Regions from separate parts of the Homo sapiens genome. Here region 1 is linked to region 2. Evidence: fine-mapped expression QTL. A gene starts in region 2. The other region holds a variant in brackets. All regions are shown on one strand. Distances are from middle to middle. Region 1 has its middle 34 kb from the start of SLC35D3. Region 2 holds the start of SLC35D3 (solute carrier family 35 member D3).

Evidence for each region. PIP is the estimated chance that this variant, and not a neighbour inherited with it, causes the effect. A credible set is the group of variants that fine-mapping cannot tell apart.
Region 1: its variant is the best candidate, but not a certain one, in a credible set for the expression of SLC35D3 in whole blood (INTERVAL, PIP 0.78).

What each region holds. Positions count from the first base shown.
Region 1 is chr6:136,953,766-136,959,137 of GRCh38, forward strand. No RefSeq gene overlaps it. Among named protein-coding and RNA genes, the nearest start is that of SLC35D3, 34 kb to the left of the region's middle. RefSeq lists enhancers at 2,793-3,361, 4,498-5,064 and a silencer at 3,526-3,820. The variant G/T (reference allele first, on the strand shown) is at 3,196.
Region 2 is chr6:136,919,997-136,925,368 of GRCh38, forward strand. SLC35D3 (solute carrier family 35 member D3) reads left to right here and starts at 2,305. Exons shown (of 2, transcript NM_001008783.3): 1 at 2,305-2,871; 2 at 3,889-5,372. The coding sequence starts at 2,433. The coding sequence ends at 4,700. RefSeq lists an enhancer at 1,327-1,833.

The sequences.
Region 1 (5,372 bases), 34 kb after region 2:
ATATTTCAATTTCATTCTCCAATAGAATTTTATCCTAGTATTTTCTGTGCTTAAAAATGTTAAATATATTTCTGAAACAAAAATATGTATATAAATTGAAATAGATGTTCTATTTTCTTTGACCATAGGACTCCAAGTGTTTAAAGGTTTTCTTTTGGATTTAGTTATCATTACAATTGTTATTAGTACTCATAGGTCCTCAACATCATTATATTACAAGTATTAGTAGTTACTAAATATAAAGATACAATTCCATTAGAACCACATCTCTTAACAAGATAGGGCATTTAAAAAGTTATTTCATTGCAGGAGGAGCAGGATTAAAAAAGCAAAAAACAAAGTTATTTTATATATTCATGGATGAATATTACTTAGAAAAAGATAGGGTTCAGCTCCAATTCTCATAACATTTCTGACACAATAAAGAGAAGTATTCTGTGTCATGGGTCTTTTTGAACAATTAGTGTGCACTGGCCTTGAAATGTGCTTTCTCAGACAACATCTCATCGCCACTGGTATATTGCTAGTGCATTAGTGGACCAAATGATAGTAAAATCAGAAAGGCATAGGGTTACATTCCAATTCTCATCATATTTGTCATTTTTACATATGTAAGTGTTGAGAAACTTTGTTCACTAAAATAAGTAGTTGGAAATGAGAAGTGTTTTGTTGTAGGAAAGCCATTCACTTCTCCAAGTTATGTCCTAACAAAATCATATGGTGATATATTGTGAATTTTTTTGTTTGTTTGTTTGAGATGGAGTCTCACTCTTGTTGCCCAGGCTGGAGTGCAGTGTTGTGCTCTCGGCTCACTGCAACCTCCACCTCCCGGGTTCAAGCAATTCTCCTGCCTTAACCTCTTCAGTAGCTGGGACTAAGGCACCCACCACCACGCCCAGCTGATTTTTGTATTTTTAGTAGAGATGGGGTTTCACTGTGTTAGCCAGGATGGTCTCACTCTCCTGACCTCGTGATCCACCCGCCTTGGCCTCCCAAAGTGCTGGGATTACAGGCATGAGCCACCGAACCTAGCCAAAAATTTTTTAATGATTTATCAGCCCTTCCTCCAAATAGGTGGAAGCTACTTGACTTGGAAAAGGATTTGTTACCCAGTTGTTGGAGTCTTTTATGGTCTCAACACCAACACAAGGATTTCAGATTAATTTCATTTTGGGTACCTCAGAGGCTTTTAAGCCCTGAGGCATTCCATGGTGGCAAGTCCTGGTAGATGAGATGGGTGCCTTCCTTTTTATTCTTGTGAAGAAAGGGTGCCTGTGAAAGGGGAGATGGGAACAGAGAACCAGCAAGACACCTGAAACACACAGGCTCTTTCTCAGGAAGAATGGTTTTAGGCAGAAGCTCCTAAGGACGATGAGGATCTGGGAAGTGATTTCCATAATACGACATGTGCCTATTTTGAGGATCACCAATGTAGGGCATGATGGATGCATTAATGAAAAAGGTGGTAAGAACTCTTTTGAACGATAGGATGGGCAAGGATGGGAGTAGGGTGTAGAGAGGGCTGTGGGGGAAGAGGAAGGGAGTACCAGTCAAGTAGGGAAATAAGGGAGAACTGAAAGAGCACACAAGAGTTAATTCAGTTTTGACTGTGGCTGGCCCCTCTGTGTTATAAACTGACCATTGACTCACTCTCACCAGCACAACATTTAGAACCCAGTGTTTTTGTCTTGAGTTTTGTTTTGTCAATTAACACCAAAGCAGGCTAAATAATAATACATGTTTGGTTGTGAGACAGTGTGTTGGAGGGGCTGATTTTTATTCAGGGGTTTAATCAAGAAAGGAATTAAGATTAGAATTCAAGGTTTATAAATCAGGTGAAGATCAGAAGATAGGAAGGGGACAATTTGGAAAAAGGGGAGAGGACTTAAGATAAAGCCTGGGCACTTTGATTCTGTGTCCCCGGTTTCCATCATTAACATTGTTTTAGCTGCAAATGTTGCTTCCTCTTCCCAAATTAAATTAAACTGTCCTTAGAGCTGGAATAATGTAGTTCAGTTCTCTCTAAACTGGAGTATACTATCTCTCAGCACTTTCAAAATGGCTAAGGGTCTTTATTTTGTGTGTAACCTTATTTTGTGTGTAATACACATGAACATCTCGAGTGTCATTCAGAAACAGGCCATTTCTCGGATAAGTCTATTCATTTGCAAATTGACAGATCTCTATTAATAGCAAGAAATGTTTGCTATCAGGTTTACATTGTTACCAATGTAATTCAAAATCATCCTTGGTAAGATTAGGCTTTTTGCGTGGAAAATTAATTAAGTTAAAATTTAAAAGCCATCTTTGAATGAGACATGAGAAGTAAAACAACAAAATAAAAATTTAAAATCTTTGCATGAATTCAAAGTTCATGAAACTCTTAACTTATTTTGAGCACATAATTTTAAAATAAAAATATTTGAAAATTGGTTTTATATTTTTTAGCATAGCTTTTAACTATTCACTGGAATTGAGAAACTCACCTGCCTATTTGTAGAAATTCTGCTTTCTAAATATGGCTCCTAAGCATATATATGTAACTGATAGGTTTTTTTTTTTTGTTTCTTTGTTTTTTTAAACAGAGTCTCACTCTGTTTCAAAAAACAGTGACGTGATCTCAGGAGTGCAGTGATGTAATTTCAGCTCACTGCAACCTCCACCTCAGCCTCTCTAGTAGCTGGGACTACAGGCATGCGCCACCATGCCCGACTAATTTTTTTTTTTTTTTTTTTGTATTTTTAGTAGAGATGGGGTTTTGCCATGTTGTCCAGGCTGGTCTTGAACTCCTGGCCTCATGTGATCCACCCGCCTTGGCCTCCCAAAGTGCTGGGATTACAAGTGTGAGCCACTATGCCCGGCCTGTATCCCATTGTTAACATATATCTTTATGAAAGCAAAAGCAAATGTTATAGTCACACAATTATAGAATAATGTCATGTATATAATTTCTATTTAAATGTAAAGTCAAAAAAGTCCTCTGAGATGGAGCCTTCCCTTATGAAATGCTCTACCCTGCTCCTGGCTGATGGCAACCAGATCATATTTCAAACTGCTAATCAAGTTGTTAATTTATAAAATCGAGTAGATGGGAAAAGGTTTCTACTTTGGCTTTGACTTTAATTATGTTAACTTTTTCCTTTCTCTCCTAAAATACAACTTGTTAGCAAATGCCACCTAAATGGTACTTCCTTT[G/T]TGACTTCGCAGCTGTCATTGTTATGCATTCATCAGGCCGGAAGTGCTCTTCTGTGTATTTTTGGAAAGCTATTCATCTGTTTTAGCTAAACAAACAGAGCTGTTTAAGCTGTTAAAATACAGTACCATAGTTATTTGTTTTTGCATCTTCGAGTTGCATGTAAATGAAAGGTTCGGGCTAATTGGTTCTAGGAATAGTATCCAAAGCAGTTCTAGAGAATTTCTCCCGGTAATTAAGTGGAATGCACTCTGGGACTCTAGTCGGCCTCACACAGAAGGGCCTCTTGGCTTTCCTTGTGGCTGTTTGTGCTTATCTCAGCCAGCTCAGTGGTTGTGGGTAGTGGGCTGTGGGCTGTGGGCTGGGGTGGTTAGGAGGGGAGGAAGAAAAAAGTTAATTACGGCCCAATGCAGGCCGACTGGAGCTCAAGGAGGAGGCACTGCAATGGAGAAAGAGGAGCTGGGGCAGGGCCGGCTGCATAGGCCTGCGACTAGTGCTGGCACACAGCCTCTGAGCCCAGAAGGGGGCCCCGCACTCCCAATGTCTGCAGCCACCGTCTTGGAATTCTGATTTATCTTTGAATACATGGTGTCTTTTAAGTGAAGTCCTAATGGGATGATGGAGCAGAAGCTGGGACCTTGGAGCCTCCCGCCACCTCCCTGCCTTTCCTGGCCCTGGCTGCAGGCTCCCCTTCCACCCCCCTGCCTTTCCTGGCCCTGGCTGCAGGCTCCCCTTCCACCCCCCCACCCACCCACCCAGTCCCAGGCTCTCCCCCACCATCCACCCACCCAGTCCCAGGCTCCCCCACCACCGCCCACCCAGCCCCAGGCTCCCTTCCCACCCACCCACCCAGTCCCAGACTCCCCCACCACCTACCCACCCACTCTCAGACTCCCCTACCACCTACCCATGCAGCCCCAGGCTCCCCTCCCACCCCCCACCCAGTCCCAGGCTCCCCCCGACCACCCAGTCCCGGGTTCCCCCACCATCCACCCACCCAGTTCCAGGTTCCCCCACTGCAACCACCCCCTGCCCCAGTGCAGGCCCTGGTGGTCTCATGCGCATGCTCACCCCCTGCCCCCCACGCCAACCCCTTGCTTCTGAGGATCTGCACTCACCTTGCAGTATTGTGCCGGTGGGCGTGTGGCATTACATAGCAAATTACAAGCACCAGGAAGGGGCAAGAGAGAAACCGTGAGGGGGAGAAAGAAAAATCCTTTCTCTTGGTTTTTGCAAAAGGGACCCCACATTGTCATTTTTCACTAAGCCCTGAAAAGTAAGTAGCAGTCAGGAGCCAATGCACTGGTTCACCACCAAAGCCGGCAACTCAAAAAGCCCAAAGGAAGGCAATCTTGCCAACAACCAGAACGCTCCTAAGAACCTGCAGGAGCTTGACATCCACAGGTGAAGTCAAAGTTTCTCCGGCCAGAGTAAGCATCTAGGCGATTAAGCAGCATCCAGGTGGGGGTGCCTGTGACACCTGGAGCCCCAGAGGGCTTGTTACAGTGCTCTTTTAGCTCTGGGCTCTAGCGCTTGGGCTTCAGCTCTTAAAAGCCATGAATAGAGTAAGGATGAACTACAGGGTGTGGGGATAGAATAAGGGACTTAGTTTTTCAGAGAAGTTAAATGATGTAGAGTTTAGACTCTGATGCCAGGTGGTCATGGTTCAAATCCCTTTCATCCATTAATACCATGACCTTGGCCAAGTCACTCAATTATTCTGAGCTGCCAGATAAGGATCTGTGGAATCATTTCTTGATGAGTCTGATATTTTGCTTCTTTCCCATCTTTTCAGTTATTAAAAATTAAATAAAGTTATTATTTAAAAAGTGGAAATACTTCAATTTAGTCATATTTCTATCTGGTTAGGTTACAATGCCTTATTTCCCTCTATTGATGTCAGTCATGCTTCTGGTGGTTGCACGACAATCCTAATATAAGTGAACATAGGTATAATCTTGGCATCGAGAATGCCATTTATATGCATGATAGGGACGGGGGCAGAGAAATTCTAGGCAGAAAAGTGTGGTCCCTGACGAAATCTCACCCTCAAGCCAAAAAGCCTGAAACCCGTGGTCCAAAGTGAGAACTTCTATCCCTGTTTTCCCATGTGAATGCTGCCTTTCCCTAAACTACCTATGGCCCACTCTGCCCCTATCCTGTGCATAGAAGACTCCAG
Region 2 (5,372 bases):
TGAATCAGCCCCAAATCTTTTACCTAATGTTAGTATCACAAATGGATGCAATTATAATTGCGGGCAGAAATGAATCATTCCAAAAGTAGGTTTGTGCAGCCACTTCTTTATATTAATAATATGCACTTAGGATGGCTTAAAGCAGCCATGCTTTTATTGGGATAGTCTCTAGAAGCAGAAATCTGTTATTTGCTGATATCTGTAAAAAGTTAATTTTCAGAGTTTTGAATCAATATATTTTGACTATACCACACACATACACATAATTTGAACTGGTGCTTCAGACTTCATTATTTCCTAAATAACATTAACTCTACAAAAACAGAGTCACTTAAACAGCCAATAGTGTGTAACCACAAGTTTTAGCAACAAAAACCAAGGGCTCCCCAGAGAACCGGAAGCACGTGTTTCAGTATAATGCTTTCCAGCTATTCCTGGAAAGTTGGCACCCTGGGCCATTCACAAACTTTTTTTGAGTGCCCACCTGTCGGGAGCAGGGACGTGGCCCTCCTAGGCACCGGGCACATAAGCTGGTGGACTGGTTGACCCCGAGCTCTCTAGAGCTCACCAAAGTGAGCATCCAGAGCCCCAAATGCTGGCCCAAATGAAGGGCTGCTGTGATGCTGCTGATCCCTGCTGTAATTTTTTTTTCTTCCTCTGTTGCGGTAAATCACGACTTCAGCACTTTGGCTGAAGTGTCGCGTTCAGCACAGAGGTGGAAGTAAGAGGCAGAAAACAGAAGAACCACGAGAGAAATGGATCCTGTCTATTAAGGCAACGTGATGCAGCGCTAAAAGGTTAGGAGGTTACGATTCCCGGGGCTAAGAGAAATAAACTGCTGGTGGTGAACGAAAGGGGTGCTGGAGCGCAGCGATCTCGAACCTTTCCCTTATAGCCAAACCCTGGCCAAGGCCACAAATTTCAAATCGCCTGAAAACCAAACTGTCTGGCGCTTAACGGTTACCTCGGCTGAGCGAAACCCTTGGCTGCTGCTGATTTAACTACAGGTCCGCGCGAGTTACTTTCCAGGGAACTGAATTCAGAACAAAGAGTTACCGAAGCCTTACTCCCTCTCCAAAATTAGAATTCCCTTTTTCTCTTAGTCATATAGGAAACACACAGTTCACAAGTCCTGTGGTGCAAAGGTGTGAACCCTGGCCCAGGGAGGTGGTGACTCTCCCCGCCCTCCGCCTGCCGGTTGTCCTGCTTCCGAAAGCAACCCACGACGGTCCCGCAGGGTGAGGGTTCCCTGGGATCAGTTCCCTGGGATCCGGAGAACGCCACGCGGAGTCTCCCTGCAGGGTGAGGGGCCCCGGGTTCCCGCCCCCTCCCCCTCTACTCTCCCATTCTGCGAGCGCAGCCAGCCTCCCCTCCCACGCTTCGGGAAGCGTCGCCCCCGAGCTCCTCGGTTCCTGGTGGTGGCTACTCGTGTTAGTGACTTCGTTTCTGCGCGTTTGCTTATTTTCATCTTTGCCTCAGTTCGAATGTGTCCCCGCCACCAGGCCCCGCTGCTGGGCGAGACCACTGAACCCCCTGAAAGCTTCCCCGGAGCCGCGCGCATAATCCCGGGACCCTCTCTGGAAGGCGTGCGGAGAGCGGTGCGCGTGGCCTGGCACCGGAAGGAGCCAGCTTCCGGGCTCCGAGGCACCCCCTGGACAGCGCCCCGGGCCGCGGGTTCCTCCTCCGATGCCCGGGCGTCGTCGCCGGGATCGGGAGCTTCGGGGGCCCGCCGGCACCGACGGTTTTCGCTTCCCTGGCGGGCAGCTGGACGAGGTCCCGCCGCTGCACCGGGAGGGACAGTGGGTGGAAAAAGCCGCTGCAGCGCCGGGGCGAGGGGGCTGGGGGCGCCGTCACTTGTTGCGACCAATAAACGGCGCTCGATCCTGATGCGCTGTTTCTAAAATCTTTAGCTGTGTCCCGATCCCTCCAACCCAAGCCCCTCGGCCAGGAGGAAGGGGCAAGCGAGAGCCGCTGGCTCTGTGGGGGGAGAGGGGCGCCGCGCCCCAAGAGCCCCCGTCCCGCCCTGCGGCAGCCGCCCCGGGGCGCCCAGCCGCCCGCTTCCCTCCGCAGAGCGTCTTCCCTGACGGTGAAACCGCGCGGGACACAACCCACCGCGGCTCATCACCCACTTACAAATAGCTGTCGCTAGGATTCCCGCCACTCCTCTCAGACCGGCCCCCCCGCCACCTCTGCCACTTTTCGGAGTCCCCCGCCCTCGTCACTGCCTCCCCGGAGCTGCGGGGCAGTCGGACGCAGAGCTGCCTAACCGCAAGAACGCCTGGCCGGAGCTGCCCTCTGCAGCCGAGCCGGCGCCCCCTGCCCTTCGCCGCCGCGCTGGGCGGGCGCCCCCGCCGCCCTCACTCCGCTGCTCCCGGCTCCTCGCGCGCAGGTCGCGGAGCTCCGCCACCGCTGGGTGCGGCGAGGCCGGCGCGATGCGGCAGCTGTGCCGGGGCCGCGTGCTGGGCATCTCGGTGGCCATCGCGCACGGGGTCTTCTCGGGCTCCCTCAACATCTTGCTCAAGTTCCTCATCAGCCGCTACCAGTTCTCCTTCCTGACCCTGGTGCAGTGCCTGACCAGCTCCACCGCGGCGCTGAGCCTGGAGCTGCTGCGGCGCCTCGGGCTCATCGCCGTGCCCCCCTTCGGTCTGAGCCTGGCGCGCTCCTTCGCGGGGGTCGCGGTGCTCTCCACGCTGCAGTCCAGCCTCACGCTCTGGTCCCTGCGCGGCCTCAGCCTGCCCATGTACGTGGTCTTCAAGCGCTGCCTGCCCCTGGTCACCATGCTCATCGGCGTCCTGGTGCTCAAGAACGGCGCGCCCTCGCCAGGGGTGCTGGCGGCGGTGCTCATCACCACCTGCGGCGCCGCCCTGGCAGGTGAGCGGGCCCCCGCGCCGACCCCCAGCCGACCCCACCCACCCCGCTCCGTCGGGCAGAGACCGCGGGGATCACTGAGTTCAACGACCTCACTTCCAGATGGGGAGACTGAGGCAGAGAGAGCCGGAGAGCTTTGAGAGTGGTCGCTCAGCTCGCAAAAGGGACTTCCGAGACCCAGAGAGCTCCCCAGCGCCCCACCAAGTCCCCCTGCCCCCTAATGTCCTGGCTTCCGACCCTCGCCCATGCTTCACCCGGCATCGCCCTTCCTGTCGCCCCCTCTCCTGGTCTTCCCCTGTCACCCCATTCTCCGGGAGAGGTGGGAGGGCCGCCTGAGCCTGGGAGCTGGAGTCCTCCAAGCCTGGACCAAGCCGGAAGGAGGGGGCCGTGAACTTCCTTGGGTCACGAGGGGCTGGAATGGAGGTGGGGGATGGGGGCGAAGCTGAGGGTTCCCGGGGCTACTGCGGGGTGTCTCGTGCTGCGCAGGGGGCTGCGGCCCTGGGGCAGACGACCCAGGTGCTGAGCGAGACGAGAGCCTGGGCAGGGGGAAGCTTCACTGGGGGCCAGAACAGGCGTTCTCCCCCGCGCCTGGCCCGCTCCGGGTTGCAGGCCACTGGCTGGGGCTCCCTCTCCCTTTGGTGCCCCACGGGGCAGGGGCTCCGGGGTGCAGGTACCACGCGCCCAAGTGACCTCGGTGCCAGCTCGGGGAAGCCACAGCACCTGCCCCGAGGGCATCTGCGCTCTCCGGGGCCTTTGTCTTGGACAGAGGAAGATGGAGTGACCCGGGGATATGGCGGGAAGGCGCTCTGAGCACTGAGTTTGGCTGTCGCATTTGACACGGGTGGCCGAGGGACGGCGGGCGTCTGTCACTCAGGAATCCGGTGGGCAGAGCTGGGGCGCGAACCCAGTCTCCTTTCCTACCCGACGCGTTTTCCCCGTGGGTCCCCGCCCACGCCAACCTGCTGTCTTCTCTCTTTTTCCTTCCCGCCCGGGCTCGGCCGTCCTCCTCGTGCGCCGCAGGAGCCGGCGACCTGACGGGCGACCCCATCGGGTACGTCACGGGAGTGCTGGCGGTGCTGGTGCACGCTGCCTACCTGGTGCTCATCCAGAAGGCCAGCGCAGACACCGAGCACGGGCCGCTCACCGCGCAGTACGTCATCGCCGTCTCTGCCACCCCGCTGCTGGTCATCTGCTCCTTCGCCAGCACCGACTCCATCCACGCCTGGACCTTCCCGGGCTGGAAGGACCCGGCCATGGTCTGCATCTTCGTGGCCTGCATCCTGATCGGCTGCGCCATGAACTTCACCACGCTGCACTGCACCTACATCAATTCGGCCGTGACCACCAGCTTCGTGGGTGTGGTGAAGAGCATCGCCACCATCACGGTGGGCATGGTGGCCTTCAGCGACGTGGAGCCCACCTCTCTGTTCATTGCCGGCGTGGTGGTGAACACCCTGGGCTCTATCATTTACTGTGTGGCCAAGTTCATGGAGACCAGAAAGCAAAGCAACTACGAGGACCTGGAGGCCCAGCCTCGGGGAGAGGAGGCGCAGCTAAGTGGAGACCAGCTGCCGTTCGTGATGGAGGAGCTGCCCGGGGAGGGAGGAAATGGCCGGTCAGAAGGTGGGGAGGCAGCAGGTGGCCCCGCTCAGGAGAGCAGGCAAGAGGTCAGGGGCAGCCCCCGAGGAGTCCCGCTGGTGGCTGGGAGCTCTGAAGAAGGGAGCAGGAGGTCGTTAAAAGATGCTTACCTCGAGGTATGGAGGTTGGTTAGGGGAACCAGGTATATGAAGAAGGATTATTTGATAGAAAACGAGGAGTTACCCAGTCCTTGAGAAGGAGGTGCATGTACGTACCTATGTGCATACACTTATTTTATATGTTAGAAATGACGTGTTTTAATGAGAGGCCTCCCCGTTTTATTCTTTGAGGAGTGGGGAAGGGAAGAAAAGAAAGAAGCTGAAAGGTACTGACACAGAGCAACAAAATTAGCACCTGTGTGAATTATTTAGTGTGACTTCACCTGAGGCATCACAGAGACAAAAGAATGTGAAGCTACTTAACAAAGTAAGGCAACGTTTCTGCTTCAGACTCCTGGCACATTTACTTTTTGTCATTATAACCATAACTAAATATCTGCATGTACCAAGAGTCCCTAAGCCACCCCCTCCAAAGATGGAGTGTAGAAATGATGACAGCACTTAGTAAGTTCAAAGATGACATTCAGGGATGCATTTTTTGATGATAGAACTACAGTTTTTATCGCCAGCTGGGCAAAGAGTATATTGCTGAAATGATATATAAATATATTGAATTGATGTTTACTGTTTATAGTCATCTGAAATATCATATTTACTCTGATTCTACTCACTTGTTTTTTAAAAATAAGTGTCCTATTATTGTATTATATATTGATAGAAACTGTTAAAGCTATTTTGAAAATATGAGTTCTTAGCTTTAATCATGAAGTCTGAAGTTTGCTTTCAGTAATTATTTTAAAAGTTGTT